2 separate regions of the Homo sapiens genome follow, and region 1 is linked to region 2. A link means that fine-mapping ties the variant in region 2 to the expression of a gene that starts in the linked region. Tissue or cell type: sigmoid colon. Region 2 holds a variant in brackets; the other region holds the start of a gene. All regions are shown on one strand. Distances are between the middles of the regions.

What was found. PIP is the estimated chance that this variant, and not a neighbour inherited with it, causes the effect.
Region 1: it holds the start of LINC00842, and the variant in region 2 is fine-mapped to the expression of LINC00842 in sigmoid colon (GTEx, PIP above 0.99).

Annotation. Positions count from the first base shown.
Region 1 is chr10:46,396,737-46,399,423 of GRCh38, forward strand. LINC00842 (long intergenic non-protein coding RNA 842) reads left to right here and starts at 1,626. Exons shown (of 4, transcript NR_033957.2): 1 at 1,626-2,057. RefSeq lists an enhancer at 1-501.
Region 2 is chr10:46,988,602-46,991,288 of GRCh38, forward strand. All of the region lies in intron 9 of PTPN20 (protein tyrosine phosphatase non-receptor type 20), which reads left to right. Among named protein-coding and RNA genes, the nearest start is that of PTPN20, 79 kb to the left of the region's middle. The variant G/A (reference allele first, on the strand shown) is at 1,534.

The sequences.
Region 1 (2,687 bases), 590 kb before region 2:
CCTGAGCAAAATCAGCATTCCCTTGGCAAGGAATAAAGGGGGAATGGATTTGTGGTCAGCAACCCACCGCCAAGCATTCTGCCTGCAACAGGGTGGGGCTGGCCAGGGGAGGCTCCTCAGGGAAGGTGAAAGCTGTGCAGAGTTTTGCAGGATGACTCAGTGCTTATCAGGTAGACAGATAAGGAAGAACATTCCAGGGAGAGGGAGGAATGCTAACAACAGCAGGGGATCTGGTCTGTACTAGACATGCCAAAGGAATGGTGTGTCCATATCAACAGAGGAGGGAGAGACAGAAGAGAAAGAGCTTGTCAGGGCCTGAGTCAGAGCGGGCTCATGCTGTGGGGCTAAGAAGCTCAAATGATTTCCAGAGACAGTGGGGAAGCTTTACAGGGACAGGCAGGGGAAGATCTTAACCCGGCTTTCGTAGGCCTCTGGCTTGAGTATAGAAGGTGAGTCTGGGACAGGGAGCCCAGCGCCGAAGTGTTGCAACACTATAGGGAGACATACAGACCAATTCCCTCCCACCTAACAGCTCTGTGCTTTGGGGTCCTGGGTTAGTTTCCTGGGAGAAGGCTGGCCTTGGCTACCTCTGTCCTTGACCAAGGACATCGTTTTAAATATTTGTGATGTGTCCTAGGCCACTGCATCTCTGTCCCTGTAGCGAAGAGAAGATACTGATTCCTAAGCTCCTACTCTGAGAACACAAATATCTGCAATACCTCGGTAAGCCCTAGGCCTGAGTGTGAGGTTGCAGGCACTTCCATGGCCCCATGCAGGTGTCTAAGTTCCCTCGTGGTATTTGGCCAAGGGGGGCCCTGTGTGATGCCCTAGCGCGGTGACTACCCGTGTTCCTGGCCCATGGGCATCTTCCACGGAATTCTGGGCTTAGCCTGGGGATTCATGCGGGCGCATCTCTGTGATCTGCTCTGGAGCAGGATGTACATCAGGTCTCTCAGACCTGAGTCCCTGGTGCCTGGCGCTCAGCCTTGACTGAAGTGCTCGGCCCACCCTGCTGGGCCAGCCAGCTCCTGCTCAGGGCCACAGCCCTGTAACCACGGCTTCCTCCCCAGGACTCAGGAATTCTCCCACTCCGGAATGCCTTGCTGCTGGGGTGACCAGGTCTTCACTTGTGAAACAGGAGTCAGCCACCTCAGCCCTGCGCCTGGCCTGGTGGAACATGGGTCACCGCCCCAACCTGGGGCAGCCGCCCCATCCCAACGCAGTTGCTGCCGCTCTCCATGCCTCCCTGTGCCCAGCTAACTGGGGGACTTGTCCCCTGGGAAAACCTGGGTACCCAGGCTGCCTTTGGTTTCAGCCCCTACTCCTCTTCCCGGGCTGCCTTTGCTCCCCGGAAGACCCCTTTCCCCGGGCTGTGTTCACATCGGCTGGGAAGGGTCCCTTGCAGACAGATCTTGGACGAGGTCGCGTCCCCCCTCGTGACCAGCAAACTCCTAAAAGCGGCCCTTGCCCCAGAGCCCCTGTAGCCTCCAACCGGCAGTCAGGAGGCAGCGCCGTCTCAGCGCCGCTTAGTGGCGCCAGGCGTGCCTGGAAATCCGCTTTCGCAGCGCCCCCTCGTAGCCGCCTCCGCCCGCAGAAAGGCGTTCCCTGGACAGAGAAGCGGGCGCGCGGGGGCGGGCGCGCGGGGCCTTGCCGGAGAACCTGACTCTCCGCAGCAGCAGTGGAAGCCGGAGTGACGCGTTGTGTTGAACACCAGTTTTCTGGAGCGCTGTGTGTTCTTAACAGCTGAGCAGTCTGTTTCTCCAATCAGGTTTCAAAGCCACTTCAACTGCACTGGCCCCTGTGGGTCACTGCTGCACCGCCCTGACCCATGTGGGTCCCTGAGGAGCGACCTGCCGGGGCCACCTGGCTGGACGAAAAAGACACACCTTGGACTTAAGCCGTGAGAAAAAAACTTCATCAGTAAGAAGAATGAATAAACAGACTAGGTTGAATCCATACAATGGAATGTTAGCAGACAATAAAAAGAAAATGAACTATTGATGTCCCCTACTGCACAGCAGAAGCTCTGAATCGTGTTCCTGAATGAAAGAAGTCAGGTATGAAAGAATAAACATTGTATGATTCCATTTATATGAAAATGAATCTGTGATTTAAAAATCAGACTAGTATTAGGTTGGTGCAAAAGTAATTGCGGTTTTTGCCTTTTTTTTTTTTTTTTAATAGTTGCTTTGGGGTTTATGGATGGAGTGGCATGGTAGAGGTTAGCTGAAGGGGGCATGAAATAACTTTTTGGGGGTGCTAGAGTGTTGTAAATCTTACAGTGGGGGAGGGACAGGAGTGCAGGCATTTGACAAAACACATTGAATTGTGAAATTTAAGATTTTTGAATTTCTTTGTATGTAAATTACCTGCCAATAAAAACATGACGAATAGAGCAGTTATGAGCATTTGTGTGTAGCTTTTTGTGCAAACTTAAATTATAATTTCTCTGATAAAAGCCCAGGAATGTGATTGTTGAGTAATATGGTAAGTGCATGTTTTTTGAGAAACTGTCAATCTATTTTTGGGAGTGGCTGTGTGTATCATGTTATATTCTCACAAGCAAGGGATGAGAAATTTGGTTTCTCTGCATCCTTGCTAGCATTTGGTTTTATCATTATATTTTTATTTCAACTGCTCAAATAAGTGTGCAGTGATTTCTCATGATCTCAATTTGCATTTCCCCA
Region 2 (2,687 bases):
AACATGCAGTATTTATCTTTCTGTGCCTGCCTTGTTTTGCTTAATGCAATGTTCTCCAGACTTGTCCATATTGCTGTGAATGACAGGATGTCACTCTTTTTTTATGGCTGCATAGTATTCCATTTTCCAATTCATTAGCATAGGATTATTTCCATTTGTTTCTGTCCTCTTCGTTTCTTTCATCAGTGTTTTATAGTTTTCCTCATAGAAGTCTTTTACTTTTTTGGTTAAATTTATCCTAGGTGTTTTTTTTTTTTAATAGCTATTGTAAATAAGATCACCTTCTTTATTTCCTTTCAGCTAGTTTGTTATTGGAGTCTAGAAATATCACTGATTTTTGTATGTCGACTTTGTATCCTGCAACTGTACTGAATTAGTTTATTAGTTCTTAGAGTGTTTTGGTAGAGTCATTAGTTTTGGGGGATATATATATATATACATATATATATGAATATATGAATATATAGTCATGTTACATGCAAAGAAGGACAATTTAATTTCCTTTTTTTCCAATTTGGATGCCCCTTATTTCTTTCTCTTGACTAATTGCAATGGCTAGGACATCCAACATTATACTGAATAAGAGTGGTAAAAGTGGGCATTCTTGACCTGTTTTCCAGTTCTTAGAAGAAAGGCTTTGAGCTTTTCCCCATTCAGTATGATCTTAGCTGTGTGTTTGTCATATATCGTCTTTATTGTGTTTAGATATGTTCCTTCTATGCCTCATTTGTTTAGAGTTTTTTTTTTTTATCATGAAAGCATGTTGAATTTTATCAAATGCTTCTTCCACATCTATTAAGATTCTCATATGGTTTTTGTCATTCATTCTGTTGATATATCACATTTATTGATTTGCATATGTCAAATTATACTTGCATTCTGGGGATAAATCCCACTTGGTCATAGTGCATTATCTTTTTGATGTGTTGTTACATTTGTTTTGCTAGTATTTTGTTGAGGATTTTTTTTTTTTTTTGCCTCTATGTTCATCGGGGATATTGGCTTGAACTTTTTTTTCATTGTGTCTCTGTCAGATTTTGGTATCAAGTTGATAATGGCTTCATAGAATGAGTTAGAGAGGAGTCCCTCCTCCTTGAATTTTTTGGAATGGTTTCAGTAGGATTGGTAGCAGTTCTTCTTTGTACATGTGGTAGACTTTAGCTGTGAATCCGTCTGGTCCAGGGCTTTTTTTGGTTGGTAGGATTTTTATTACTGATTCACTTTTGGAATTCATTATTGGTCTGTTCAGGTTTTCTTGAACAGGAATTTCTTCCTGGTTGAATCTTGGGAGTTTTCAGGAATTTACTCATTTCCTCTAGATTTTCTATTTTTCGTGTGCATAGATATTTATAATAATCTCTGAAGATCTTTTATATTTCTGTGGGATTAGTTGTAATGTCATCTTTGTCATTTCTGATTGGGCTTAGATTTTCCTTTTTTTGTTGTTTAGCTAGCAGTCTATCAATTTTGTTTATTCTTTCAAAAAACAGACCAGGCGCGGTGGCTCATGCCTGTGATCCCAGCACTTTGGGA[G/A]GCCGAGGCGGGTGGATCACCTGAGGTCAGGAGTTCGAGACCAGCCTGATCAATATGGCGAAACCCCGTCTCTACTAAAAATACAAAAATTAGCCAGGTGTGATGGCATGCACCTGCAGTCCCAGCTACTTGGGAAGCTGAGACAGGAGAATTGCTTGAACCCAAGAGGCAGAGGTTGCAGTGAGCTGAGATTGTGTCACTGCACTCCAGCCTGGGAGACAGAGCGAGACTCCATCTCAAAAAAAAAAAAATTGTTTGTTGATCTTTCGTATGCATTTTTCCATCTTAATTTCATTCAGTTCTGCTCTGATTTTGGTTATTTGTTTTCTTCTGCTAGTTTGGGATTGATTCGTTCTTTTTTTCTAGTTTCTCTAGGTGAGACATCAGGTTGTTCATTTAAGATCTTCCTAACTTCTTTGATGTAGGCATTTAGCACTATAAACTATACTCTTAGCACTGCTTTAGCTGCATCCCAAAGATTTTGATTTGTTTTGTCTCTGTTTTCATTAATTTCAAAGAATTTTTTTGATTTCTGAATTCATTTGTTTACCCAAAAGTCATTTAGGAGCAAGTTGTTTAATTTCCAAGTAATTGTGTAGTTTTGGGAGATCTTCTTGGTAGTAATTTCTGTTTTTATTGTACTGTGGTCTGAGAGTATGCTTGAGATGATTTCAGTGTTTTTAATCTTTTTCAGATTTGCTTTATGGCTGAGCATATAGTCGATCTTAGAGTATATTCCATGTGCAGATAAGAAGACTGTATATCCTATGGTTTTGGAGTGGACTAGTCTGTAGATATTTATTGAGTCCAATTGGTCAAGTGTTGAATTTAAGACCAGAATTTCTTTATTAATTAATTTTTCGCTTTGATGATCTCTCTAATCCTGCCAGTTGGGTGTTGAAGGCTCCCAATATTATTGTGTGACTAAGTCTTTTCATAGGTCCAGAAGAACTTGTTTTATGAATCCGGGTGCTCCAATGTTAGCTGTGTGTATATTTAAGATAGTTAACTCTTCTTTTTGAATTTTTCCCTTTGTCACTGTGTAATGCCCTACTTTGTCCTTTTAGATCATTGTTGGTTTAAAGTCTGTTTTATCTGATATAAGAATAGTGACCCCTGCTTTCCTTTTGTTTTCCATTTGCATGATAGATCTT